Linked DNA regions of Homo sapiens. The protein of the gene in region 4 binds, or shares a complex with, the protein of the main gene of each other region. Each region holds a gene or a part of one and is shown on either strand. Other genes may lie near its edges.

Region 1 (8,143 bases), on a different chromosome or scaffold from region 4:
ACCTCTGCTAAAACATAAGGGATGGTGGCTGACTCCCTTGCTACAGCAAGTTCTCAATCGACTTTGCTTTTCTCATTTGGTTTGCAATAAAATGCATTCTTTACAGTGACACAATTTGATGAATTTTGACAAACGTATACATTCCCACTAACCATGACACAGAACATTTCCATCACCCCCAAAAGTTCTCCCATTTTCCTTTCCAGTCAATTCCTTCTCTCTTCCCCTCCTAACCAACCACTGATCTGCTATCTACCACTATGGATTAGTGTTGTTTGTTCTCCTAACTACAGTTGGCATAGCCTCATTGGTCTAAGCACTTCCTCTGCATTCAGGCACAACGAAATACCTGGCTCATCTTGTACCTTTCCCGTCCCAGAGCTGGAATCAGCCAGTTCTCCAAAGGAGCTCTGGATCTTTTTAGTGGGAAATGGAATTTAGAAACCAAGATCTCAGTGTCAGATGTGCTCACTGTTACTGTAGGGTGCCCATGCCTATACATCCTGGTTCAGCCAGGACTGTTCCAGTTTTAATCTGAAAGTCCAGCATCCAGAGAAAACCCCTCTGTTTGTGGCAAACTAGAACAACTGGTCACCCTAGTGCTTCTAGGCCCTTTCAGTCCACAGAACTAGGACTTTTTTTTGCAGTTGAAACTTTTTTTTCTTTTTGATAGGGTCTGTTGCCCAAGCTGTAGTGCACTGGTGAGATCACAGCTCATTGTAACTTTAAACTCCTGGGCTCATTTGGGCCTCTCGCCTCAGCCTCCCAAGTAGCTAGGACTATAGGCACAGGCCACCACCCCTGGCTATTTTATTATTTTGTATTTTGTAGAGACAAGATCTCACTGTGTTGCCCAGGCTGGTCTTGAACTCCTAAGCCACTTTGGCTTCCCAAAGCACTGGGATTACAGGTGTGTGCCACTGCACCCAGCCCTCCAGTTTAAACTCAATACTACAGACTTTTTTTTTCTGAACTTCTTAAAATTCTTTATATTAGTTTCCACCCCCACCCCCGGATGAATGAACGTCTTAAAAATTGTTTTAAATTTTTTAAAAAATGGAGACAGGGTCTTGCTATGTTGCCCAGGCTGGTCTCAAACTCCTGGACTCTAGTGATCCTCCCGCTTTGGCCTATCAAAGTGCTGGGATTACAGGCATCAGCCACCCGGCCCTTTTCTGAACTTCTTTGATCTTGTGTTTGTATCTCATTCTCTCACACACTGCACATCTTTGTATATAGTAACATTAAAATACTTATGTTATCCTACCATATACAGTACAGAGTTTTAAAACCACAGTAACAATGTTACCATTAATCATAAATCAGTGAAGCTGAAAGCTCCTGTGCACTTTTTTCATCCTTAGAATACACAGTTGACCCTTGAACAACACTGGTTTGGACTGCCAGGGTCCACCTATATGTGGATTTTTTTCACCCCAACACAGATGAAAAATACAGTGGGGCGAGGGACGGTGGCTCACACCTATAATCCCAGCATTTTGGGAGGCTAGGTGGGAGGATCACTTGAGCCCAGGAGTTCAAGACCAGCCTAGGCAACACAGCTCTCTACTGAAAATAGAAAAAAATTAGCTAGATGTGCTGGCACATGCCTGTGGTCCCAGCTACTCGGGAGGCTGAGATGGGAGGATTGCTTGAGCCCAGGAAGTCAAGGCTGTAGTGAGCCATGATCGTACCACTGCACTCCAGCCTGGACGACAGAGTCAGACCCTGTTCTCAAAAAAGAAAAAAAAAAAGAAAAGCAAGAGAAGGGAAGGAAGGGAGGGGGGAAGAGAGGGAGGGAGGGAAGAAGGGAGGGAAGAAGAGAGGGAGAGAAAGAAAAAAAGAAAAGAAAAAGAAAGGAAAGGGAAGGAAGGAAGAAAACAAAACAGAAGTACAGTGGGATGCAAAACACACCTACACAAAGAACCAACTTTCCCTATGCTCAGCTCCGGGACTTTAGTATGCAGATTTCTGTATATGCTCGCAGAAGGTCCTAAATCCAATCTCCTGCATATAAGGAAAGACTACACTATCACAACACAGATACACTACTAGAGTACTGTGTTCAAAAGCTCAGAGGGGCCAGTGGTGGTGGTTCATTCCTGTAATCCCAGCACTTTGGGAGGCCAACCTGCAGGCGGATCACCTGAGGTCAGGAGTTCCAGACCAGCCTGGCCAACATGGTGAAATCCCATCTCTATTAAAAATACAAAAATCAGCAGGGGATGGTGGCGCATGCCTGTAATCCCAGCTATTCAGGAGGCTGAGCTGAGAGAATCGCTTGAACCCAGGAGACAGAGGTTGCAGTGAGCTGAGATTGCACCACTGCACTCCAGCCTGGGCAACACAGTGAGACTGTCTCAAAAAAAAAAAAAAAAACCCAAAGAATAATTATTTTTTCTGTGTATCTTAGTTATATTAGTTAACAGTTAAGTTCATTTGTTTCAATTTGCTTTCAACCTTAGGATTTACTTTGTTTCCTTTTTTATTTACTTTTTTGGCTATGTAAAACTAAAAGTTCAAAGACAGAGAAATCTTGTCTCCACCCCCCACTCTTTATAGGCAACTAAAAATGTTAAGTTTCCAGGATATCCTTCCAATTCCTCCCCGAAAATAAGCATATACACATAAATATTCATATTAAATATAAATATATATTTTTATGTATTTAAGTAAATACATAAAAGCATATATGCTTATTTTTGCTTTTGAATACAGTGAATACTTACTACACTTAAATATTTAAGTGAATACTTAATACAACCTGAGACTCATTCCAAAGCAACACACGATTATTTCCTGAATCTTTTTAATGGTTGCATTGTGTTCTACTGTATGGATGCACCATTCCCAATCAGTTCCCTATTAACGGATATTTGGGTTATCCCTAACTTTTGCTATGACAAATAGCACTGCAATAACCTTGTATACCTATTGTTTCCATGTGTGGAGCTGCACCTTCAGAATAAGGTTAGGGTTAGAAGTATAACTGCAAGGTATAAGAATAAACACAAGTAATTTTGTACTCCGTGGAACTTGAACCATTTTTCCACTCCCACCAGGAAAGGTAATTTCAACGTGTATTTCCATTGTAAGTGAGGTGGAGCGACTTTCTATGTTTAAAGACCATTACGGTATTTTTTCTGAGAATCATCTGTTCATGTCCTTCCCCATTTTCTCCTTTGGCTTTTGCACTTTTTGTTTTCAATTTTTGAGAGCTCTTGTGATACGAGTTGCAAAGATTTTCTCCAGACCGATCTGATTCACTGGAAATATACTACGACCATCTGGAATGTACTTTAATCTTATCCTAATAAATCACCTTACTACAAGACACTCCTTTGGGGATGAACAGGTTTGATAAAGCCGGCTAAGGACAGACCAATCAAAAGAATTACGTGCTCTTCTAGTAAGTGTTTAGAGACTGTTTCACGTTCTCCAGGTAACACCGCCATTACTCGGCGGTCCAGATGGCAGTCTTACTTCAGGGAGTCTACTCCACTTGCAGGACCTCTTTGATTGAGTTCACTAAACCTCACAGGGCCGCCTTCCCCGTGTTCCAGTTAGCAAGGGGCCCTCAACGCCGCGGACACAGCGCAACCTCCGACGCCAGAGAACAATAGCTCCTCGATGCGTCTCCAGAGATGTCAAGGAGGAACGAACCCAGCGGCCAGGAGACTGCGCCTCACGACTGATGAGAGGGAAGGCATCGGTTTCTAAGTTCTCAAAACTTACAGGTGAGCTTCTGCTAAGAGTAAACGCCCGCGGCTCGCCGCCCACGGCCTCTCTCTTGAGGTGGCACCTGGTCCTCCGACACGCGGAAGCATCACGGATGAGCGTCACGAACACAGAGCGGCCAATCACGCGCCGCCTTCGCCCAGATCCCTCCGCACGAGGCAGCCCCGCAGCCGCAGGTGGCCCCGGCGAGTACTTCCACCTTCCCTTCCCGTGATGCCCTGGGGCTGACCTCCGACCTCGCTGGCCCGCCCCTCCCCTCGGCCGCTTCCCTTACTGAGCTTGCTGAGCTCCGGGGCCCGCGGAGCTCGCGCCAGGCTCCTGGGAAAGGACGGGGAGTGTTACCGGGGAGCAGCTGCTCCATTGTGCCTCGAGGCCCCGATCGGGCTAGGCCGACGGCCTCCCTCCCTTCACCTTTCCTCTCCTGGCGGGGTTCGGCGGCGGGCGAGTGACTGCGGCCACGCCTGAAAGGCGACTCTCCTGTGAGTGGGCCAGAAGGCGAACATGGCGGAGCGGGGAGGCTGGCGGGAGGCGGGAGGCGGGAGGCGGGAGGCAGTGGCGCTGGCCTGCGGCGCGTTCGGACCGGCTGTGGGGCGGGGCAGGGCGGAGCGGAGCCGTGCGGCGGGGCGGGGCCGGGCGGCGGGGCCTGGTTTCCTCCCTCAGCGCCATTTTGTGGCAGCGAGACCCACAAATAAAGGGGAGCGCAGGGGTTGCGGCGGGACTAGGAGCGCGGCGGGGCCGGCGGCAGAGCTGTCCGGCTGCGCGGTGGCCCGGGGGGCCCGGGCGGCAGGGCAAGCAGCGCGGCCTCGGCCTATGCGACCGGTGGCGCCGGCGCGGCTTCTGCCTGGAGAGGTAGGCGCGGGCCGGCTGGCGGGAGCGGACGCGGGGGACCTCCGGGGCCTGAGGGCTGATGCGCAGCCGCCCCCGGCGGGTAAGGGGCGGGCAGGGCCCGAAAGGCCACACGGGCCTGGTGCGGCACCGGTCTCTCGTGAGCCGCTCTACCTTCCCGCCTGCGGGGAACACTTCCGCCGCTTCGAGGCCATTTTATCTCTGTCCTCCGTCCCCAAGGCCCGGGTTGAGAGGGGTGCTCTGGCGGCCGGAGAGACCGGCCACTCACGGAGGCCGGAGGATGCCCTCCCCGGGCTGAGCGGCGGCGCTCGTTTTTTCCTCGCCTCGGGGTCGCCCCCTTCACCTCCCTTGGGCCTCTCCTGAGGACCTGGCGGCACTAACGAGTTCAGCAAGGAAAAAAAGAAACATTCGTTCCCTACATTTCATGTCACGCAGTAGGATGTTACTACGTTCTCTTGTAGACTTCCATTTTTAAATGAGTATAAGCATTCTGAGGAAAGAAACTGAATTATTGCAGATTTTTGTGAAATCCAAGTCTTACCTTGGATCCCTGTGAGACAGTTACTAGATTTTTTTTTCACCGTTTTTCATAAGTCTGTGTACACGTAATGGAAAAGCCCGAGTTCTTGTTTTGATAAGAAAGTCACTTGGTTGTTTGATCCCAAAGGATTAGCTTAACATTATCAAGGACTAGCATAACTGTGATTATGTAAAAAAAACAAAACAAAACAAAAAAACTATTATTTAGTCTGGTAGGGAAATACTTCTATGAGTATGTTACAATTGGAAGTTGTATTTGTGCCTATTTTATCTAGTTTTAGTTAATTCCATTGCTTCGGAAGATAAGTGGACGTCATAGATCCATCGCAAGTTCTCGTTTTTTGGATTTTAAAATTTTGACCATTAAGTTTTCTACGATAGATAAACATGTTGTGGACATTTAAAACCGTAATTTAAAACTATGAGCGAAAAATCTTTTCAAGATGGATACATTTTAATTCATTCAAGTAGCATCTGATTAGCCAAGTCGGGGAAAGATTGCAGTCCGCAAAGCTGGCTTGTGATAAGGTTGAGGTTACATTTTAAGGGTTTGGGTAGGTGTGTTTCTTACAGTGCTTTTATATGTTAAGGTATCTTAAGCAGACACATGGTTTAAAAGTTCAGTATTTTTAGTACTTTTTCATTGGCAGAATTTGGACAAGCTACCAGAATTGCTAACTCCTAAAGGATAAAAGTAATAATAATAGTGTGTCCCAGGCACTGCTTATTTTTACATGGCTCTTTTATGTCTAGCTTTTCCAATTCAACGTTGAGTCATGTTTGCTGAAAATATTTTTGTGTATTGTTTGTCAGAAATAAGCTGGTAGAGATGAAACACAATGTGTAAAAAGCCCTGTGATGTGGAGATGAGCATTGTCACAATTTGTACAGTACATTAAAGCGTTCAAGGTCTCTTATGGTCTTGTATGTAGTATTGAATCCCCTTGAATATATTGTTTAGCAGTTTTGATCATTATGTATTTGCTTCTTGCTCCTCAAAATTGTACGTTAGTTAGTAGGTCCTTCAGCAAAAGAAGACTGAAGATAGTATTTTGGTTTTATTCTTGTTTTTAATTTTTTTAGTTGTCTCCAACTTTTCTGCCTCTAAATATTTTGCTTCTTGTAGTTACTAAGCTTAACACAGAAAAACTTTTCAGTATCTCCACAATAGTAAACTTCATTGTGTATTGTGTATAACAAGATGTTCCATCTGACTAAAATATATTGCTGTAAATATTTTCTGCCTTTGAAGATGTAGTTAATAGAATTTAATCTTTTCTAAGTGCACATTGAAGTTGCCTTTTATGTTCATATTATGTTCATATTTTATTTGAAAAATCTATAGCATTTTTATTGTGCTGAAAGCATTAATATTTGCAGCACTTTGTGAGACAGGCAAAATTATCTTTTTGCTGACTTGGAAACTGCAAGAGTTAAAAGACTTGCTTGGAATCACACATGGCAGATAGAGGATAAGGAAAAGATGGCCTTTCAGTTCCTCATCAGTACCTTGCTACTACAGTGTCTGCAGATTGGTGTCTTACATTCAGCTATGATTTGTTCGCCAAGGTACCGTGTCTTCTTACTGAAGTTGTTTTGGCTGGCGCTTGCCTCCGTTCAGAGGGAACTGAGTTACCTAACTTTATGATGCTAAGAGCCAGGAAGGTACTGGGATCTGGGATGCTAGGCACCTAACCAGTCTAGACTGAACTCCATACTAAGCTGTTTTTCTGTGTTAAGGCATCAAGAGTAGATGGTGGTCCTGATTTTCTGAGATATATTATCTCTGAATTATCTACATAAATAACTGAAACTTTTATGTAATTTTAAAACTAGTCAATCATGTTACCACCCTTTTGAGGGGCACCAAATTTGAGACCCTTACCCCCAATTTATTAATTAATAGCTGTTTTAATCACCTAATAGCTGATCACCTAATGACTAACAGTCATTTTCATCCTGGAAAATGGGAACTAACTTTGACTTTGAAAAGTGCTGTTATTAAATGTGTGATTCATAAGAACTGAACATATTTTCTTTATTATTTTCCTTCAGGATTCAACTTTAATTGACTCCAAATGATGTTATGGTCATTCTGTTTTTCTGATACGAGAATAGATTGTTCTGAGAACCTAGAATATTCATTGCCTTTATGAATCTAGAATTGACTTTAAATTTAGGTTATTGTGTTTGTCATTTGCGCTAAAAAAAAAATTGCCCTGGGGAATACCAAACTTCTCGGTACATTCGTGTGGTGTGAAAGTCAAAATTGCCAATTAGGTTCTATTTTGACCAAATAGTTGAATGTTGTAGACAGTTGTAAATTTTGAACCTGTTCTAATTTGCCTTTTGCCAGATGGCGCATTTAACTTTGTGGCATATCATCGACTTTCAAGGAAAGATTTACTTTTCATCAGATTAAAGTTGAGGAAGGATTTTCTTTCTAAATACTGAGGCTCTGAATTTCCCAAGTTGGATACCCCAGACAGCTAGAGTGATCTTAAAAGTGACTCTGAGAGTTGACTTAGGAAGTGTAGACATTTATCCAAAATCTGTATTTACTCCTGACTTACATTACAAATACAGAGTTTTATTTTTAAAGAAAATTTCAATAAAAAGCACCATTTAATTAAAATCTACTCACCATCAAACTTTTTAAAAAGAACATAAGCCAATGTCAGGAGTTGGAGACCAGCCTGGCCAACATAGTGAAACGCTGTCTCTACTAGAAAAAAAAAAGAAATACAAAAATTAGCTGGGCATGGTGGTGCGTGCCTGTAGTTCCAGCTCCTTGGGAGGCTGAGGCAGTAGAATCGCTTGAACCCGGGAGGCGGAGGTTGCAGTGAGCCCAGATCATGCCCGTGCACTCCAGCCTGGGCAACAGAGAGAGACTACGTCTCAAAAAAAAGAAAAAAAGAAAAGAAATTTCAATAATTGCAGGCTGGGCATGGTGGCTCACAACTGTAGTCCCAGCACTTTTGGAGGCCCAAGCAGGAGGATTCCTGAGCCCAGGAGTTCA
Region 2 (8,201 bases), on a different chromosome or scaffold from region 4:
AGGTGTTCTAATAGAATCTTGCCAGAAAAATTACTCCAAGGGGCTCCCCATTAACACTGGATTTATTCTTTGGTCATTCTAAGAATTAGCACTTCTGTAACTGTATCCCAGATTTTGTAAAAGATCCCAGATTTTGTAAAATATTTATTGGTTCTTTTTATTCAAGATAAAAAATCCCCAATCTTTTTTAAACTATATGATATGGAAGTGTTGTGCCTTTTTAAAGTGAATTTATCTGAAGTGGCCAGTAGTCCTTAGTCACTTTCTATGTAATATCTAAGAAATTTTTGTTGTTAAGGACTTTATAATTTGTTACTGTATTCAAAAGGAAATAGTGCTTTATGCTCTGATTCTTAATTTAAAAACAACAAAAAGCAAAAAAGTCCCAAAGAAACCCAGAATGTTATCATTATTAAATGCTGTACCTCATGAACTTGAATCTGTGAAGCAGAGTGGGAAGGGCCAGCCAGCTCTTGAAAGTGGTAGACTATGCAAGCAACAGTAGAGACCTCAAGTGTTCAGGATGGTGTGAAAAGGACTTGTAATGAAGTGTTGGTATTTTCATTATTCACAAAGGTAAAACGATTAAACCATTTTGATATTTGAATATTTAATATTTGAGGGACAGCATTGAACTGATTATATGTCTACAACGACTTGCTTTTTAGTTCATTGGAATGTCAGGAATACTTTTTGAGCAAGGAAAAAAGTCATTCATATTTCTTTTGGCCAATGCATTGCTTGTAAGTACTTTTACATACATAAGCAACTACAATGAAAACAGATCAAATACATTAATCAGCTTGTGAGTCTATTTAATGAAGTGTTGAAAGCTGATCAAGTTGGGTTAACCCTAACTCAAGATTCTAGCTAACCATGTAATTCCACCCCTCTTTGTTTTAGGATTAGCTGTTATAAGAGTAGTAAGTAGATTAAAATAATCGTTATGGACCCATTTTTAATTTTGTTTGGTATTTTGTTCAGAAAAAGTGCAAATGAATGTGAACTTATTGTGTGTCTGTAATCCTAGTAGCCTTGGAGGCCATTGGTACTAGCTTACTACTTCCAAATTTGGCTTTGCTGAATTTAATGTGGATGGTTTGGCTATCAGTCTTGACTGTAATATTTCCTGCAGGGGCAGTTATACAACCTTGTTCAATAACTTGTCATGTTTAAAACACTACAAATTAAAAAATACGTTATTTGTATTTCCTATTTTAAGCATTTTCCTTCTTTAGTAGGTCAAGTTAAATATTTTCTGTATTATATATTTTCATCTACTTGAAAAAAGGTAACTCTTAAGCTTTAGATGGAGTCAGTTCTATGAAATAATACTCCTGTTACTCATGGGACAAGAATTAATTTATTCTATAGACAATAACAAGCAAAGACTCCAGGGACTAGAAAGTGACACTTGTTTAGACCTAGTTGTAGTATAGGAACTTTGCATCCTCTTAAATTATAATTTTCCATTACAGTGCTGACTAAGAACTCAGTCACATGTTATAGCACAAATACATTATTGCATGTTTTTACTACTAAATGGTATAATGATTTTTACTATATTTCTGAATGATTTTTAGAATAATTATTTTGCGCTTAAGGAATAATCACATTTCTTAACTTCATTTTCAAACGCATTGTTTAATTTTGCCTTCATCAGTATTAGTAAGTTCAGTTTACTAAATTTATTTTCTGCTTTGCATGCTTGATGATCAGACATGGAGACAGGGATGGTTTTCGTTCTTTTTCTCCTTCTTACTCTTTTTCTTTTAAAAAATTCTCTTGTAGTTCAAGACAATGGTTCTTGGGTTCATTAATGGTTTCATGTTTCTGTAAACTTCTCTGGAATTATATGAAAAATTTTATTCACTTTTCTAGGGAGAGGTCCTATAACTTTTATCAATTTCTTAAAGGATTCTGTATCTCAAAAGGGGTTAAAAAGCATTGCCTTAAGTGTTGATCCAAAATAAATAAAATTAGCAGTTAAACTTAATGTAATATTGAAAATCAGAACCCAGATCTTTAACCTTGATAATGTTAGGTATGGTGTTTTAATACCTGTGGCAGAATAATCTTTAAAAAGAAAAACTAAAAGAAATTACAACTTTTTTTTCCTAACACAGACAATGAGTTACAAGGCACTAATAGTTCTGGATCCTTGGGTGGTCTTGATGTTCGCAGACGAATTCCTATAAAGCTCATCTCCAAACAAGCAAACAAAGCGAAACCTGCACCGCGAACTCAAAGAACTATAAACAGGATGCCTGCAAAGGCTCCACCTGGTGATGAAGGTAATTTGTTTAACTAATAGGTCCAACACTCTTTCTGTTTTATCTGATTGCTTCGGACAGTCTGTGTGATCTTATAGCTACCTCTTTTTGTCTTACATATTCTATTCATTCTTCAACCTTCTTGTTTGACTTCTCATTGTAGCACATTGTATTTTTATTTTCCTTTATAAATATTTTTTGATTTGGTTCCTTTTGTTGTTGAAAGCAATACTGCCCATTGTTCAGTAATCTCAACAGTATTGCAGAAAGCATAACATTAAAAGTAAAATCCTTCTATCCAAAGATAATCCCTGTTGACTTTTTTATACAAAAGTATTAATTTTTTATGTGTAGTTGCCATTTTTTCATGTAATATGCATTTGAGATTTTTTTCTTATCAGTACTTACAGATGTACCTCATTAAAAAAATAGGTTTGGGTATTTATAGATATACCATAATTTATTTAACAGTTTTTCCAGTTTTTTCTGTTACAAAAAACATTGCACCAAATATTCTTGGACATACAGTTTAGTATGTATACTTTGTAGAATTTGTACTTTGCACAGATTTGGCCTTTTTTTTTTTTTTAAGAGCAATTTGACAGTACTTGTCAAACTCTAAAATCCACAGTATCTGTCAAGTTTTAAAATATCCAAATTTGTAGTTTTAAAGGCTTTGGAATTAAAAAAATAATAATAAAAAGGTATGTTAGTTTTTACTGCCATACACCAATACTGAGTACTAGAAACCTTTTAAAATTTTTGTTTTGATGTAAATTTATTTTAATTATGAAAGAGTGTATATTTTTTCATAGCATTGACCATTCTTGTTTAGATCCTTTCTTCTGAGTTCTTTGTAAATTAATAGGGTTTTTGTTATATGTTATGTATGTGCGTGTGTGTATATATATTTTTTTGTTTGTTTGTTTGTTTGTTTTTGTTTTTTTGAGACTGAGTCTTACTCTGTTGCCTGGGCTGGAATGCAGTGGTGGGATCATGGCTTGATATTCCAGGCTCAAGTGATCTTTCCACCTCAGTCTCCTGAGGAGCTGGGACTACAGGTGCACCCCACCTGCCTGGCTAATTTTTTATATTTAATTTTTGTAGTCATGGGGTCTTGCTATGTTGCCCAGGCTGGTTTTGAACTCCTGGACTCAACAGTCCTCTTGCCTTAGCCTCCCAAGGTGCTGGGATTACAGGCGTGAGCCACTGTGCCTGGCCTATATTGTATATATTCTTCATTTGTCTTTTGAATTTTGTATACAAAATATTTATTGCAGAGAATCTTTTTTTTTTTGAGACAGAGTCTTGCGCTGTCACCCAGGCTGGAGTGCAGTGGCGGGATCTCGGCTCACTGCAAGCTCTGCCTCCCAGGTTCATGCCATTCTCCTGCCTCAGCCTCCCGAGTAGCTGGGACTACAGGTGCCCGCCACCACGCCCAGCTAATTTTTGTATTTTTAGTGGAGACGGGGTTTCACTGTGTTAGCCAGGATGGTCTCGATCTCCTGACCTCATGATCCGCCCGCATCGGCCTCCCAAAGTGCTGGGATTATAGTTATTGCAGAGAATCTTGAAGATTCTATATAGTCAGATATCCGGTCTTTGCTTTTATGACTTCTGGGTTTTGTGACATTATTTGAAAGGCCTTCCCCTATTTCACCAGTATAAAAGAGTTTTTCCATCTTACCCTTGATTACAGGTTAGCAAACTATGTCTGTGGGCCAAATGTAGCCCTGTTTTTATAAACAATTTTATTGGAACACAGCTATGCTCATTCATTTAAGTATTATCTATGGGGGCTTTCACACTATAATGGTAGAGTTGAGTAATTGTGATTGAGACCATATGGTCCACAAAGCGTAAATATTTACTATTTAGCATTTCACAGAAAAAGTTCACTGATACTGCTTTAGAACATTTATGGTTATTAAGGGGAAAAAAGGTGGGGTCTGGCTTTTTTTTTTTTCCCTCGAAACATTGTCCCAACTCTTTTCCTTGCTGAATAGGGATTTTACTGTTATCATATATATGTTAAAGCAGCAGTCCCTAATCTTTTTGGCACCAGGACTGGTTTCGTGGAAGACAGTTTTTCCACAGGTGGAGAGTGATGGCAGGGTGCGGGGAGTGGTTTCGGGATGCAACTGTTGCATTAGTTAGATTCTTGTAAGGAGCACCAACCTAGATCCCTCTCTTGCACGGTTCACAATAGGGTTTGCGTTCCTATGAGAATCTAATGAGGCTGCTGATCTGACGGGAGGCGGAGGCAGAGGTCAAGTGGTAATGCTCCCTAGCCCTTCCCTCACCTCCTGCTGTGTGGCCGCATTCCTAACAGGCCAAGGGTACTGGTCCAAGGCCTGGGAGTTGGGGACCCCTGTATTAAAAGTATTTTTTTGTATTTCTGGACTTTCTGTTCTATTCCAGCAATTTGTCTGTATTTATTTTGTAGAATCAAACTGCTTTAGTTACAACATATGTTATGGTTTCTTTTATCGTAGGGTTCCTCTGCCATCTAAACAAGTATATTTCAAGTCAAAATGTTAGAAATCGTGTTAGTAATAACCTAGGGCTGCTGTTGCACTACCTCTAATTTAGGGTCACTCCTGCTTTGGCTTTGTTTAAAAAAATAGTTTTTTAAAACAACACGTTAGTGTACAAATAATTCTTTAATAGTTCAAACAATGCAGAAAAGCCAAAATCCTTTTCTCTCCTTTCCCTCTCGGATTTTGGAGTAAAATAAGTTTGTTTTTGATTGTTGTTTTCCTAGGCATCAATCAAAATATATATAGTTTAATGATGGGAGTACAGGTGGAACTACTCTGAAAAATGATAATGTGCTCCTAATTTCCTTGGCTGTTATCTCAATAATTTTCTGGTTTGAAAAATTGAGTTTCTGCCAGGTGTGGTGGCTCACGCCTGTTTTCCCAGCACTTTGGGAGGCTGAGACGGGCGGGTCATGAGGTCAGGAGATTGAGACCATCCTGGCTAACACAGTGAAACCTCGTCTCTACTAAAAATACAAAAAATTAGCTGGGTGTGGTGGCGGGTGCCTGTAGTCCCAGCTACTCGGGAGGCCGAGGCAGGAGAATGGCATGAACCTGGGAGGTGGAGCTTGCAGTGAGCGGAGATTGCGCCACTGCACTCCAACCTGGGCGACAGAGTGAGACTCTGTCTCAAAAAAAAAAAAAAAAAAGAAAAATTAATTGAGTTTCCTTATTTTGAATTTTAGATCACACCAGCTTTTCTAAGGTGTAAATGGGTGATATAGGAGCCTAGGAACACTCAGGTGTAACTTATAAGAGCATCCTGACTTTGGATTATACATTCGTATTGGCAGTAATTAAATAGCAGTACACTGAAGTGTCTATCAGCTTCAAAAACTTCTTGCATCATTGTTTGTGTGTTAATGTGAATGTGTCTCTCTGTGTGTGTGTGTGTGTGTCTGTGTCTGTGTATAGGTGCTGTAATTTAGTCATGTGGGTAAAGTTAAAACTTGTGTGCTTGGCTACTCTGTTTACCAGTTCTAGGGCCAAAAGAGTCGTGAGAAGCCTGGCTCCTTGGAGGGATATATTTGTCTGCTCAGCTTTACTTTAGGTAATTGGATTCTACCTAGAATTCCCATCAGACTGTTGATTGGTTTTCTGTTCTTTTGTAGGAGTTGAGAAGATTGCCATCAACTTTTTAATTAGGCCAGAGAAATTGAGCCCCTTTCATCTTCATATATCTTAAGTTTATTGATATTGATAAATGCATTGTAGGAAAGGATACATGAGAATACGATATGGCTCCTGTTGTTTGGGTAATTAATCAGGGAGTGGTTTTAATTGACAGGATGAAATATGAATATGTTAAAGTGTCTAAATCACTCATTTTAGGGCTAAAGAAGAGGATAACTTGTTTGCTAATAAAATCGATAGAATGCTTTATGTTTTCATTATGCTATTGGCAATACAATCAGTCTCTTAGCATACCATTTTTGTAGCTAGACTAGAATAAATGGTGATCAATATCTTAAAAATTTGTGCAACAAGCATGATCATCAGTAAAGTTTTACATTAGAAATAGTTTCATGAATTGATAAGAGCATTTGAATGGGAGTCAAGAGATCTGAGGTCTGTTCCTGGCTTTGCCACTTATCTTCTATATGTTGAGTTATGAGTCTCCATACAGTAATATTCTCAATAATGAAGTAAAAGAGTTGGACTAGATCACCAAGATCACTTCTAACTGATGTTTTAAAGTAATCTTGATTGTCTTATTCTTAGAAAAGCTTTGAAAGGCATCAGATGAGCTTTTTAGTGAAAAGGTCTATTTTGCCATGTATATGTGCTTCCAAAATGAAATTTGAGATTTGGAAAGTTAATGGGCAATACTTTTTTTTTCTCAGAAGGATTTGATTATAATGAAGAAGAACGGTATGACTGTAAAGGGGGTGAGCTGTTTGCAAATCAGCGAAGATTTCCTGGACACCTTTTTTGGGACTTTCAGGTATAATTAAAAATGAAAAATTGTATTATAACAATAAAATATTTTAAGTATTAAATACTTAAAATGTTTTATTGGAGTAATGCACAGTACATTAAGAATATTATGAACTTATAACTATGATTTTCAGCACATACAAATCATTTGTTAATACTCTATTTTCAAGAATAATTTGAAGTAATTTTCAGTAAAATCAATAACTGTTAACACTAAGAAGAAAAACTAATGGTATCACAACTAATGGTGGGGAATAAATGGAGATTATACCAAGAGGCTTCTATTTCTAATTGTTTTAACAACTTTTATAAAATATTGACCAATTCATTGTGTAGATACAATCTTTAGAATTGTGTAAGAAGGTAATTTTAATTATATCATTTCAACAGATAAACATCTTAGGTGAAAAGGATGATACACCAGTTCATTTCTGTGACAAGTGTGGATTGCCTATTAAAATCTATGGGAGAATGGTAAGTATAATTAAATATTGTTTTTGTAAGTAAGCATTTGCATAGAGGTGGGGTTCTGAAATTTAGATAGGTTTATCATTGTTTAATGACTAAGTTTGCAAAATTTTAAATAAGTATGAAATAACTAAGGGAAGTATTGGAATACTATGAATTTAATATGATTATCTTGACAAATTGTTGAATTCTTATAAAATATTAAATAAAACTGAAAATTAGAATAATTTCTGAAAACTAATTCCTTTGGAGTGTTTGATACCAGTGAATTTACAGTTATTCTAGTTTATTAAGGAAATTTTTGTTTCTTAATAAATAGAACAAAACTGCTTATTTTTGAAGGCCACAATTTTTTACATAAAACTGCATTAATAATATTTATAATTTCTCTTTTTTTCCTGAGGCTCAGAGAGGCTTAATAGTAATTATTATTTCTGAAAATTGAATTATAATCATTAAAAAAATTTTACAATCCTAACTGTAATTTTATAGTAATTTTCACATTTCTTCCCTCCAAAAAAGATAGTTTTGCATTTGCCTTTAGAAAAAAAAAATTGAATTCAATAACATACCTGTGATGGTAGATGGCATGGATTATGCAGTGTTGCTTTGCTGAACATCATAGTAAAGAAATAGTAACAGGCTGTGAATTTAAAAATGTGCTTCTAACATCATTTAATGTATCCTTCTGATTGATTTTTAGATTTTTATTAGTTAATTAACTTGAAACTACCAGAGGAAGATGCTGCTTACGTTAAATATAGGACATACTTGTTATTTTACTGCATTGGAATAGTTTCAGGAGAAACAAGATTAAAAAAAAAACACACATAATTAAAAGTATTCTTCAGGAGTTTTTGACCTGCAGGGGGCTGGGTGTGGTGGCTCACACCTATAATCCCAGGGCTTTGGGAGGCTGAGGTGGGAGGATTGCCAGAGGCCAGGAGTTTGGGACCAGCCTGGACAATTTAGTGAGACCCTG
Region 3 (5,305 bases), on a different chromosome or scaffold from region 4:
GAGGCAAAGTGGCCCAGCTCAAGATCACTCAGCGTCTCCGTTTGGACCAGCCCAAGTTGGATGAAGTAACTCGACGCATCAAAGTAGCAGGGCCCAATGGTTATGCCATTCTTTTGGCTGTGCCTGGAAGTTCTGACAGCCGGTCCTCCTCTTCCTCAGCTGCATCAGACACTGCCACTTCTACTCAGAGGCCACTTAGGAACCTTGTGTCCTATTTAAAGCAAAAGCAGGCAGCCGGGGTGATCAGCCTCCCTGTGGGGGGCAACAAAGACAAGGAAAACACCGGGGTCCTTCATGCCTTCCCACCTTGTGAGTTCTCCCAGCAGTTCCTGGATTCCCCTGCCAAGGCACTGGCCAAATCTGAAGAAGATTACCTGGTCATGATCATTGTCCGTGGTGCGTCCTAAAGTCCATGTGTAACTTGTATTTACTACTTTGACATGGTTCCTGTTTTGTGATGTGTAATGGGATACAGCATCAGATGCAATTTTCTTTTTAGTTGTTAGTTGTAGCATTTTCTTTTTTATATTTTTATAAACGTCTTTAAAATAGAAATCAGGACAGTTTAGCTATTTTTTTGTTTGTTTAGCTATTATTTTAAGTGAAAGGGATGCCCTAAAGGTAGCAGGCAGGCAGACAGATTTGCTTTAATTAGGAGTTCCCACCCTTATGAGTAATTTTTTTTCTCTATTCAGTTGTTTTTTTTTTAATCTTGAGCTTAAAAAATCCTCAGAGTTACAAAACCAAAATTTTGAAAAGTCAGAATTTGGAGAAAGGAGTCCACTGACCATATAAAGAGAGTAATAGCCACCTAAAAATGACTCGATTGGTGTGTAGGTAAATAATTCTTTTACCAGAAATGTGTGTGACTGAAATTTGATCAGGGATCTCAAAGATATGCTGGTAAATTGTATAGCAATGTAATTATTTTAATCAGGTATTTGAGTATTTCTTAAGATACAGTTTATTCCCAGAGAGTTTGCTTTAACATGCATTTTTTAAATCATTTGTTCTAGAGTTCTGTATCCCATATATGCACTTTTGGTTTGTAGCAGTAACTGTTCAGTAAAAATTAAGGACTATGTTACAAACCATATATGTCTTATGCTTACACTAGTATGCAAGAAGTGAGTAGGTGCTTTTAAAATCAGAATTCTTTGGTCAGTTATTGGTGTGTGGTGGTGTTTTTACTGACTTTTTCAGAGAGGTGTAGCAGGTACAGTTCTAATCGTGCATATTTCGAAACTAAGTGTTCTTCATCAAAGATGAGTTTTTGTTTTTGTATCAATTCAAATTTCTGGTTTCAATAATAGAAAGAAGAGTTGTCTGCAGGCTCATAGTCATCTTTTATTTCAGTGGGCATTTAAATCAGCCATATTTGGATTGCAGAATTTCTTAAAAAGTCATCATAAAATGCCTTTGACATGCTCTTTTAAAATTTTGCTTGTCTTTTTATTTTCATATTTAAACAGTAGTGACATTACATTATTGAAAATGTTTTGAACATCTTGGAAATTTTATGTTCAATATTCTCACTGCTGTCCAGCTACGGAATTGAAATGTCAGTGTAGGAAAACCTTTTTTAATTGTTTTATTTTCCCAGACACCCGGAATTAATACAGGATCATTTAACTTAGCCTCACAGTTTTTTTTTTTTCAAAGGTGAGATGATATCAACCTCTGGTTCTCAACAAGGACTTTTGCTGCTTAACAGTAATGGATTTTTTTTTTTTAATCTATCCCCTCTGTCCCACCCCTAATTTGTCAGGTCATTAGTAAGTATATTTTTCTCCCTTGATTTAAGTGCTGAAGACTTCAGCTAAGGCCCTTGATATTTAATTATGATTAGAGACTTTTGGACCTTCTGGATCATGGTCATGTTTCTGTTCTATGAAAGTGACTTAACTTGAAGCCTGGCAGAACCCAACTGTTTTCTTTCTGTTATCAAAGCTGGTAGTTTTGAAATAGCACCAATAATAACCCAGGGAAATGTCATGTAATTTTTATTTTCCATTATGACAGGTGTCTAATGCATGTCAGCACAAAAGTGTCATCACTGCTGTGTCATCCCTCTTGGTTTTCACTATGCATCTATAATTTTTTAAGTTTGCAGGTTTTGTGGGGGTTTTTGTTTGTTTGTTTTTAAACTGGAAAAACTAGCCATTTTGAGAGAAGGAAGGTTCTAGGCTATGAGCATGAAGGTCCTTGTGCCTCTTGGGAAAATACCTGAAATCCTATAATGAAGACTTTTGATGCTTCTTGCTTTCAAAAAGCTGTGGTTGGTTTGGAGTAGACACCTGTTCAGAAACTAATGCAAGTGTGGAGTCTACATACGTGGGCTCATAGTATAATTTGTGGCCAGCTACATTTTTCCAGTTTAAATAAACTCACTAACCATTAATTTTTGAATATCTTTTGTTGAGATAGTTGGACAAATGATTTTGCTCTTTTGGAGAGTGAAGTCCATGACATCTAATTTTACTGTCATCCAAAATGTGTGTTTTATTTCTTTTCTTTTACTTTCTTTTTTTTTGTTTGTTTTTTGTTTTTTGTTAGTGTGACAGCGTACAGAAGAGTACTGTGTTTTTGCTCCATGTTTGTTTGAATCTTTACCTGACATTGCCGCTTTTGTTAGGTCTGGGCAATTTGTGCTTCAGTGTTTTTGAAACAATGGCTTGATACCATTTCTAAATGTATGTATTATAAAAAACTAATTATGTTTAGTTGGTCATTACCTACAGAGTGCCATAGTCCACATGAACCTCATATTTGTACTGCCCATTCTTTTGTGCAGGTTCATAATATCCATAAAGTATCTAGTTAAACCTTAAGAATTCAAATGAAAGCAAAAGTCTAAAACCGGTTCTACTTCTCATTAGCCAGGATTTAATAATCCCAACGTTGAATGTTCTTTGTAACAACCAATTTTTTTCTATCTTTCTTCTTTAATTATTTTAATGTAGTTGATTTTTCTGGAACTCAGTTAAAATGAATGGAAAGAAAACTTCAGGATATCATTTAATGACTATTAAGTATTATTGGTAAAAACGTGAAGATAAGACTTTTAGATCACAGCTTCAAATTTTATGGAAAATTAAGCAAGCAATACCTAGCCAATAGTTCTGCTTAACTTTTTGGTTAAGTATTTTGTTGGGATTCCTATAAATAATTTTTCACACAAAGTTTTAAATTTCTGGTGTACTTTGACTCTCAACTGAGAGTGGATAGAGTTTTTCTTTTGAGGATTACATCTTAAAATGTCCATCGCCTGGCTGGTTATAAGCATTTGTCACCTTTTGAAGGTAAAATATACTCTGGCCCTTCTTGACTCAGTTACAGGTCATTTTAGGTCCAGTAATAAGAGTCAGGTGTTTGGTTATTGCTTTCAGAGTCAGACATTGTTTAGGTTTATTTAAAAACTATTAGCAGGTTTTCACTGACAATGCTTTTTTAAAAATAAAAAATGTAAATCCACTTTTTTAAGGCAGATTGTTCATTATGCATATACAGCTTGAACTATAGTTTGGGTCCATATAGGAACCAATCACCAAAAACTCTGGTAACAGAATTAGGAAATCCTCTTGAGAAGAGGGCCTTAATGACCTTTTATGTGAAAAAAATTTTGGAGAGAATTTCTGGACATTTTTTTTTCTGTCTCTCTCACAGGGTTTGGTTTTCAGATAGGAGTTAGGTATGAGAACAAGAAGAGAGAAAACTTGGCGCTGACCCTGTTATAGTGGTTATAGTGGTGTCCCTAAAGGGAGGAAATGATTTCAGGTAACCACAGTGAAATGTTAAGCTGAATGAAGAGTTTTATATGTATGGTTTAAACAGAGTTGAAAAGTGAGATTCCTGAAGTGTTCTTTGGCTGTTTAACAATTATTTGTATGAGTGTTTTATTAAAATAACGGCTGCTGTCTTTGGTAACATAGATGAGGGTGGATTTTTAAATGGCTTTGTATCGACCCCTTTCTACAATAATGGAGTAGTCTATGTTGCTCCATATAAATTACAGAATGAAAATAGATGGGGCAAAAGTTTGACTAAACTTTACCTTTTTATAGTTTCACTTTTTAAGTTATATTTAGAATATATTGATAGATTATAAATTGATTGTGAAACTTTTTTCTGAATTTTTTCAACATGTTTTACTCAGTTACATGAGTTAAAGGATATTTTCAGTCCTGTTATCTTCAATTGCAGTCTTTAAAAAAACCCACCCTATTGTTCTACTTGTTATATGTCTATTCATACAGTAAATTCATTTCAAGGTTTATGCCAGTGGGTATTATTGGTGCTTTTTGAAGTTGAGGTGAACCATCCAGGAAGGTCTTGTTAATGTTATGTTCATCTATAATGGCATAGGGGAAATATATATATTTTTAATATTGTAAACATTTGTACTGAATAACCTTTTTTTCCCCCCCTCCGCAAGCAAAACTGGTTGAACAGCGGATGAAGATATGGAATTCAAAGCTCTAATGGACCTTTTTGAAGAGAAGTTGTGGCTTATGTGGAGTTTACATGGGCCTCTGATGGAAGAAAGCTAATCTGTTTAGTATTTGTGCATTTTACTAAAATGGCAGCTTAAAGTTGTGTATCTGCTATTGTGATGCCAATGCCGGTGTTTTAAGTGGAAAAAAAATGACCTCTTTGATTTGTGCTGTGTACACAAGATTTCTGGAAAAGTAAAGAAAAACCCTTTTTATGGCTCACACAGCTTAAGAGTAGCTGTCTCTCAAACGTGCGCTCACAGTTGAGCTGCTTTTGTTTTATTCTAAATAAATTGTTTCTTTTGAGGAAAATGTTTTTCTGCCTGGAAGTGAATTGACGGCAAACCTTTGACCCCTTTGTTTGCAGCCGAGGGGGTGCTTGCTGCTGCTCAGATCTTGTATGTCTTGAGCAAGAAGCAGGGAGACCATCAATTTCATTTTGACTATCACGGTGTGTCAATTCTGAAGGATCACTAGTGTTACTGTTGACCCCCTTTGTTTGCAGTGAAGGGGATCATTTGCTTCTCGGTTCTCAACGTGATGAGGAAATGGTGCTGTTTGCTGGCACGCAAGAAGCCGGGGCAGGCACCCTAAGCCTCACCACAGTGCCTGAGTCGGGGGCTTTTGCTGGTTTGAAGAGCTGGAGTTGCTGAAATTTAAGTTTTGATTTATTTTGTTCACCCATCACGTTTGGCCTTAGTTTCATTTTTAATTTGAAGAAAAGTTTGAAATTGCTTTATCTTGCACTTAACATTTGCACCAAATTGCCAAAAGAAGGAGAAATGCTCCGTTTGCTTTTTAAATGTTAATGA
Region 4 (8,201 bases):
ATCCCCCTCCATTCCCAATAAGCAAGACAAGATTGCTGAATTATGCTCTGCTTTCTTAACGTGTATGGCTGCCCTATCAAACATAAGTCCGTAAGTTGAGACGAGTTTTCTGAGCAGACAGGTACCTGAGGTGGGAAGAGTCGGTCTGCACTGGAATCACCTCCGACACTCTGTGTAAGAGCAAGCTCCTGGCTTGGCGTGTGGTCTTTGCTGCCAGGGGCCTCAGAATCCATGCAAGCATCAATTTCATAGTGAACATACTTGCAGGTATCCATGTGGAAACATGTATTAAGGAAAGAGCAGTCACCTAAAGACTCATCAGTGTGTTTATTGATAATTCGTCTGGGAAAATAAAAAGGGAGAATCAAGATGGTGCTCCAGATGTAGATCCAACAGTTCAAATTCCAAATGATTTCAAAATGTCTATTTTATTACCCTCCCCTAATTCTATCATTAGAGCTTCCTTCAAGAGTTTTAAGGGAGGCAGGTAGCATGGAAATCCATAATTCATACTACAGAACAATTGTAATTCCTCTCTGAGTAAAGACTTGGTTTCCTGTTTTACCACTGGAAGGCAAGCAGTGCAGGAGACTTGGGTAGAACAGAATAAAACACTGACCTAAGAGTTTAGGTTCCTTTTCTCCTAAGATTATCCTCCTTTCAGAGTACTTTAACTTTCACTGTGGCTCAGAGACAGACATACTTTGCTATTCTAAGAGGGAGGGAGCTTTTAAAAAAAAAATCTCAGTTATTTGGGAGTACAGCCTGTATTCTTCCCACACAATGCACTTCTGAAAGTACACCTTCAGGGTCTGGAGGACTTACACAAACCATAAACTAAATAAGATTACAGACAGAACCCCAATGACTGGAAGGAATATGCTGAAAAGGAATGGCTGCTTCTGACAAACCCATCCCACCTCATTCCCTTCCAAGAGACCTGAAGTGCAGCTTGCGACAGGGTCGATCAGCATCACTGGCTTTCATGCACTCCTCCTTGGTTCCATAGTCACAGAATTCTTGCACTTGGGCCCGACCTCGAGAGCGAAATTTTTCAACAATGGATTGTTCCTTGGCTGTTGTAGTATTTAATAGCTCTAGGATCTCCTGACTGACCTGTGACAGAAGTAGCCTTGGACTTAAAATGTCTTATAGATCAAATTGGCTCTTAGACCAACTCCGCAAATTCTTTTTGACATTAATGTCTTCTAAGAGATAAATCAACTTTTTTTTTTTTTTTTTTTTTAAGAGATGGGATCTTGCTGTCACCCAGGCCAGAGTGTAGTTGTGTAATCATAACTCACTGTTTCTCCCACTGAACTCCCAGGCTCAAGTGATCCTCCCAGCTCAGCCTTCAATTGTAGCTGGGAATATAGGTGCGTGACACCATGCCAGCTAATGTTTTAATTACTTTACTTTCTATAGGGATAGGGTCTATGTTGCCCAGGCCGGTCTTGAACTCCTCGCCTCAGGTGATCCTCGCGCCTTGGCCTCCCAAAGTGTTGAGATTACAGGAATGAGCCATTGTGCCTAGACCTAAATTAGCTAACTTAATATTGGAAAATTGGAGCCTTCAGATAAGAGATTTGTTAGGGGTTCAGTCCTTCCTCACAAATATGCATTTGGGATGAAATTAAAATGGAAGAGGCCTGGTTCCTACCGCTAAGCATTATGTTAACATCCCCTCCCCAGGAAGGCATTCCTTCTACAAAAAACATATTTACTGGGTGCTGAACTAAAAAGTATAGTGCTAAACACTTTACTTTTTAGCTCAGAGTCTATTCAATTCTATAAGGCAGGATACGCTGGTATTATCTTCATGTTACAGATGAGAAGACTAAGGCTCAAGAGAAGTTAATTAACTTGTTCAAACTCACGCACTAGAAGTACCAAACAGATAAGAACTCATGTCAGGCCAATGCTTATACTCAGAACCAATTCACATTATTTAGTCAATTTCCATAATTGGTCTAGTATTCCTCTCCATTCATCTCCCTATATTTCTATATATTTGGATTCCTCTTCTCTTGATCCAATTCTTTCAGATTCAGTGACAGATTATCTAAATAAGAATTTGTCGACATTGGCATTGTTGACACTTTGGGACAGACAACTGTTTGTTGTGGGGGTTTGTCCCACTATGCACTGTAGGATGTTTGACAACATCCCTGGCCTCTACCCCCACTAGATGCCAATAGCACTCCCCCATGTGTGACAATAAAAATGTCTCCGGACATTACCAGATCCCCTGGGAGTTGGGCAGTAGGGAATCATCCCCAGTTGAGAACCACTGCTGTAAACAGTTCCTTGCCCTAGGGGTAAATCCCTGTCAAACAAAGCTATAATTAAGAGCATATTGTGAGAGTATTTTCACATGACCCCTACCTTCTTGCTCTGTTGTTCCTTAGTGGACTGTTGGTTCAGAAGGCTCTCTATCTCCAGATCAACATCTGAGGCAGCATGTTTCCTTGATTTCTTGGCTGGCTCCTTTGCTGGTTCCGATGCTGAAGAGTTCAGACCAGAGACTAACGAACTGGCAAAGGCAGCTACTGTAGTCGAGTCCTGTTCTGCACGCCGCTTCTGCCCTGTGACAGTCCCTGCTACCTCCCCAGGGCCCTTCTTTTCTGCCACAGCACCCATCATGGCAGAGAGCTTGGAATGGTCAGCATAGGTTACAAGAGTAGGATGTGCATCATCTTGTAGGAGACCTCGCTTTACCTCAATCAACTCCTGAGCTGCAAACTTCTGCAGGAGGCTTTCTACCCCATCTTGAGTGGCAGGAGCATCTGGCTAGAGAACGAGGGGAGGTATGGGCAATAAGACACTGACCGTGAACTGAAAATAAGTGGTAAATCCTAACTCTGTCAGGTCATTACCGTGGAGATGGCAAGACAGATGGACACAGCATCAGTGGGCAATGTTAAGGCCAGATCAGAGAGGTGGTGTAGCAACTTCTTCTCTAACTCAGGATCTGTAGCTAATTCAGGAACTGCTGAAGCTGTGCTGGGCTTAGGGCCACCAGAGGTGGGTGCAGTAGGCACTGGGCTGTCACTACGGAAGGTTGGAGACAATGCTGCCTCTGGATTCCGTAGATCTAAGAATGAAGAGAAGTGAAAATGAAAAAAGGCAACCACTGTTGGTCTATATATTTCTGAGAAGTCAAATTCTCTAGCATTCCCATACACAGATCTTTCATTTTGTGCAGGAAATTCTGTGACCAACTTTAGCACTAGATTACCTATCCTCAATCATACTAAAACATTCACTGCTTTGTCAAGATAATACTGGATTTTCTATCTACCTTTTCTCTATTGAGTGAGTAATCTTTTCCTAATTCCCTATCCTTGCTGTGATACAAAGAAAGTAAATTAGCATGATAGATTTAAATATCCCTACCACCTTTCTATCAACCTACATTTTAATAAAGGACAGGAATATACTCAACAACCTAGGCTGGGATCCAATATTCTTTTTGAGGCATGTAGTGTGAATTTTAATGAATTCAGGCCACTGATCAACAAAGTGTACAAAATGACAATGTTGGGGGCCAACAGTGTTACCTATAACACTCACAAACACAAAAATCTTAATACTTTGCTGAAGCCTTGGTTACCAAATGATATTTCCTGACTATATTATTATCATCTATTACTTCACAAGCTGGGTTGCCATCATAACCTTAATAACGATTTGAGAAACTAAAATTAGGACAAAATGTTATCTTTGAGAAAGCCTAATATCTGTGGTTAATTAAAATATAGATGAAATATTAAACTCCTAAGAACTGAACTGAAATTGCTAAATAAGTAGGCCATTAGTTTACATTTAGAAATATTTTGTTTACTTAAATATTTCCATTCTGGTAAGGCACTGGGGCTCACGCCTGTAATCCCAGCACTCTGGGAGGCCAAGGTGGGTGGATCACTTGAGGTGAGGAGTTCGAGACCAGCCTGGCCAACATGGTGAAACCCCATCTCTACTAAAATACAAAAAAAAAAAAAATTTAGCTGGGGGTGGTGATGCAAGGTTATAATCCCAGCTACTGGGGAGGCTGAAGGAGGAGAATTGCTTGAACCCACGAGGCAGAGGCTGCAGTGAGCCAACATCATGCCACTGCACTCCAGACTGGGCGACAGAGCAAGACTCTGTCTCAAAAAATATATAAATAAATAATTCATTAATTTGAAAATTTTCCACTCTAATGGAAACTGAATTTATTAAAATCTGACTCAGGGCTTGGTGTGGTGCCTTATCTCTGTAATCCCAGCACTGTGAGAGGCCAAGGTGGGAGGATCACTTGAGCCCAGGAGTTCCAGACCAGCCAGGGGAACATGGTGAAACCCAGTGTCTCTAAAGAAAATTTTTTTAAAAATTAGCCACACAAGGTGGCCTGTGCCTGTAGTCCCAGCTGCTGGGGAGGCTGAGGTGGGAGGATTCCACTCTCACCCATTTCTTCTTTCATTTTCAGTTTCTCCAGTTAGTAACTGAAGATGTTCTTTGAGTAATTAAGTGAGTGAGAAAATTTTTAAGTGAGAAATCTATAAAAAGAACCATGTTAACATAAATATTTCAGTCCTTACAAGTTGGTATTGACTTTTCTCATTGGTAATCTGACTGATTTAATACTGCTCATTCCAATATCTGGTGATGTAATTCTGGTTATGAATCCTTGTATTAATAACACCTCCTGGGAGGTTTTTTTTCCCCAACATTACATTCAGAATATTAGAGCTGAAAATACCTTTTTTAAGGTTATCAGGAGGAGGGAGCTTATGTTTAATGTGGTGGATAAAACTTAACTGCTGGTTAATACAATTGTTATTCAGGTGAAATTCCCTAAACTTTTCACGTGCAAAGTTTTGTATGTATACAGACATTTGGGGAAAAGTTTTATCATCCCTAAAACCGGTTACTGTCCAGAAAATGATAAGAATCCCTGGGTTCCAAATCCTTCATAAGGTATTTATTCATTTATTTATTCAACACATTTACTCAATGCCTCCGCTCTGCTGCAACTACACTGACATTCTGCTTCTAATCTAACGAAAATAATGTGTTCGGTTTAGCAAAATAATACATAACACTTGATTCACCCTTTAATTAAGAGAACCACTGAAATTAATATGGTCTGATTACAAATTTGCTGAATCCTTAAACGTGTCAACATCTATATGCACATCTTCAATCTCAAGAAATATACTGGAGCACTTCACATATTTACTATGTGCTAAACCTGGCCAAATATAGTTTGTTTCCATTAAAATAAAGTTTTTTTTTTTGAGACGGAGTCTTGCTCTGTTGCCAAGGCCAAAATAAAGATTTTTTTAAGTAATATTTTTCTTTTTAAAAAAATATACTTTACCAACATGAGATATATAACACCCATTAGGATGGCGCTTCCTCAAAAATCAAAAATAGAATTACCATATGATCTAGCAATTCCACTTTTGGGTATATGCCCAAAAGCATTAAAGCGGGGTCTCGGCCGGGCGTGGTTGGCTCACACCTGTAATCCTAGCACTTTGGGAGGCAGAGGCGGGCAGATCACGAGGTCAGGAGATCGAGACCATCCTGGCTAACACGGTGAAACCCCGTCTCTACTAAAAATACAAAAAAATTAGCCGGACGTGGTGGCAGGCACCTGTAGTCCCAGCTACTCAGGAGGCTAAGGCAGGAGAATGGGGTGAACCCAGGAGGTGGAGCTTGCAGTGAGCCGAGATCGCGCTACTGCACTCCAGCCTGGGTGACAGAGCGAGACTCCGTCTCAAGAAAAAACAAAACAAAAAAGAATTAAAGCAGGGTCTCAAAGAGATATTCATACACCCAGGTTCATAGCAGCATTATTTACAATAGCCAAAAGGTAGAAGTAACCCAAACGCCCACCCATGGATGAATGAACAAAATGTGTTATATACATACAGTGGAATATTATTTATCCTTCAAAAGGAAGGAGGCCAGGCATGGAGGCTTATGCCTGTAATCCCAGCACTTTGGGAGGCTGAGGATGGAGGATCACTTGAGCTCAGGAGTCCAAGACCAACCTAAGCAACATGGCAAAACCCTGTTGGGCGTTTTGCCCAAAAAATACTAAAAATTAGCCAGGCAAGGTTGTATGTGCCTGTAGTACATACAACAAGCACCTGCCACCACACCTGGCTAATTTTTATATTTTTAGTAGAGACAGAGTTTCACCATGTTGGCCAGGCTGGTCTTGAACTCCTGACCTCAGGTGATCCACCCGCCTTAGCCTTCCAAAGGCTGTGGACACCTGTAGTCACAACTACTCGGGAGGCTGAGGCAGGAGAATTGCTTGAACCCAGGAGGCAGAGGTTGCAGTGAGGTGAGATGGCACCACTGCACTCCAGCCTGGGCAACAAGAGCGAAACTCTGTCTCAAAAAATAAATAAATAAATAAATAAATAATAAAAATGCCAATCTAACAAAGGTCTCCCAATATTTTGCCCATATTATTTTCCACTATTAACGATGTGGTGGGTACATTTTAGTTCATTTTATATCCTTGTCTTTTGACACTCAGTTCAGTAGTCGGTAATTATCAGATTTCAGTAATGCTGTAAAAAACAAGGTGTGGCCGGGCGCGGTGGCTCACACCTGTAATCCCAGCAATTTGAGAGGCCGAGATGGGCGGATCACGAGGTCAGGAGATCGAGACCATCCTGGCTAACACTGTGAAACCCCGTCTCTACTAAAAACGATACAAAAAAATCAGCCAGGCATGGTGGTGGGCACCTTTAGTCCCAGCTACTTGGGAGGCTGAGGCAGGAGAATGGCGTGAACCTGGCAGTCGGAGCTTGCAGTGAGCCGAGATCGCGCCACTGCATTCCAGCCTGGGCAACAGATGTGGTAGGCAAATTTTTATTTCCGGTGAGAAACGAATGGAATAATCTGAACTTTTATCAAGTCTTGAGTTATATCTTACATGACAACATGATTCATAAACTTACAATACAGTGTTTCACAAGGGTTTCCTAAGAATCCTAAAGCTCAACAAAATACATTCTTTGAAATAATCAAAATAACACAGAAAGAACAGTGACATTCTGGTTTAATTTGTATGTTTCATCTTTACCTATTACCACAGTACCAAATGATGGGTCAGATCAAGCTCTCGGTCAGAAGACAAGATACATTTAATTACAACCCCAAAAATACTTTTATAAGAGTCTTAACTAGACTGGGATTACATCTGTAATCCCAGCACTTTGGGAGGCCAGGGTGGGAGGATAGCTTGAGCCCAAGAGTCCAAGACCAGCCTGGGCAACATGGCAAGGCCCTGTTTCTACAAAGAAATAAAAATTAAAAAGTAGGCAGGCATGGTAGGGTACACCTGTGGTGCTAGCCACTCAGGAGGAGGCTGAGGCAGGAGGATCACTTGAGCCCTGAGGTCGAGACTGCAGTAAGCTGTGTTCACGCCACTGAATTCCAGCCTGGGTAACAGAACGAGATTCTTATCTTACACACACACACACACAGAAAAGGGTCTTAGCTATATTACTAGCTAAATATACAAATCAAGAGATATTCACATCTAAAAAAGAAAAAATAAATAAAAATAAAAAAGGATATGTACATGCAGGGAGAATACAGTCTTATTGTCAAAAATATTAAACATGTTTAGCAAGGACCTGGATCAAAGTATCAAGGCTCTAGTAGTTAGGTCTGCATACAGCAGAAAGTTTGGTTAATACCAAAATGTAGTTAATGTCATAGAAAAATGAAATGAAACTTAAAATGACCAAGAGCAATTAGAATCATTCATTGAAAGAGTATGAATTTAGAAATGGAAAAGTATAAAGAAGTATGATGCCGGGCACAGTGGCTCACACCTGTAATCCCAGCACTTTGGGAAACTGAGGCGGGCAGATCAGCAGAGGTTGGGAGTTTGAGACCAGCCTGACCAACATGGAGAAACCCCGTCTCTACTAAAAATACAAAATTAGCCAGGAGTGGTGGCACATGCCTGTAATCCCAGCTACTCAGGAAGCTGAGGCAGGAGAATCACTTGAACCTGGGAGGCGGAGGTTGCGGTGAGCCAAGATCGCGCCATTGCACTCTGGCCTGGGCAACAAGAGCGAAACTCCATCTCAAAAATAAATAAATAAGTATGATGAGGAACAATTAAAACCAAGAAACAACAAACAACACCACAGATAGAGGATGGCCTGTCACAAAAACGACAG

Evidence for each region.
Region 1: METTL3 (region 4) and WTAP share a complex: the UniProt entries of both Homo sapiens proteins name them as parts of the WMM complex.
Region 2: METTL3 (region 4) and CBLL1 share a complex: the UniProt entries of both Homo sapiens proteins name them as parts of the WMM complex.
Region 3: METTL3 (region 4) and RBM15 share a complex: the UniProt entries of both Homo sapiens proteins name them as parts of the WMM complex.

What each region holds. Positions count from the first base shown.
Region 1 is NC_000006.12:159,723,117-159,731,259, forward strand, and holds the start of WTAP (pre-mRNA-splicing regulator WTAP), read left to right. Parts: upstream 1-4,389; 5' UTR 4,390-4,587; intron 4,588-7,768; exon of another isoform or gene 7,769-7,849; intron 7,850-8,143. UniProt on the Homo sapiens protein: Associated component of the WMM complex, a complex that mediates N6-methyladenosine (m6A) methylation of RNAs, a modification that plays a role in the efficiency of mRNA splicing and RNA processing.
Region 2 is NC_000007.14:107,746,754-107,754,954, forward strand, and holds part of CBLL1 (E3 ubiquitin-protein ligase Hakai), read left to right. Parts: exon of another isoform or gene 1-743; intron 744-2,126; coding exon 2,127-2,294; intron 2,295-5,791; exon of another isoform or gene 5,792-5,864; intron 5,865-6,657; coding exon 6,658-6,758; intron 6,759-7,141; coding exon 7,142-7,225; intron 7,226-8,201. UniProt on the Homo sapiens protein: E3 ubiquitin-protein ligase that mediates ubiquitination of several tyrosine-phosphorylated Src substrates, including CDH1, CTTN and DOK1. Targets CDH1 for endocytosis and degradation.
Region 3 is NC_000001.11:110,341,873-110,347,177, forward strand, and holds the end of RBM15 (RNA-binding protein 15), read left to right. Parts: coding exon 1-396; intron 397-3,666; coding exon 3,667-3,737; 3' UTR 3,738-3,777; intron 3,778-4,435; coding exon of another isoform or gene 4,436-4,482; 3' UTR 4,483-4,805; downstream 4,806-5,305. UniProt on the Homo sapiens protein: RNA-binding protein that acts as a key regulator of N6-methyladenosine (m6A) methylation of RNAs, thereby regulating different processes, such as hematopoietic cell homeostasis, alternative splicing of mRNAs and X chromosome inactivation mediated by Xist RNA.
Region 4 is NC_000014.9:21,500,788-21,508,988, forward strand, and holds part of METTL3 (N(6)-adenosine-methyltransferase catalytic subunit METTL3), read right to left. Parts: intron 3,095-8,201; coding exon 2,877-3,094; intron 2,791-2,876; coding exon 2,386-2,790; intron 1,117-2,385; coding exon 941-1,116; coding exon of another isoform or gene 922-940; exon of another isoform or gene 921-921; intron 343-920; coding exon 126-342; intron 1-125. UniProt on the Homo sapiens protein: The METTL3-METTL14 heterodimer forms a N6-methyltransferase complex that methylates adenosine residues at the N(6) position of some RNAs and regulates various processes such as the circadian clock, differentiation of embryonic and hematopoietic stem cells, cortical neurogenesis, response to DNA damage, differentiation of T-cells and primary miRNA processing.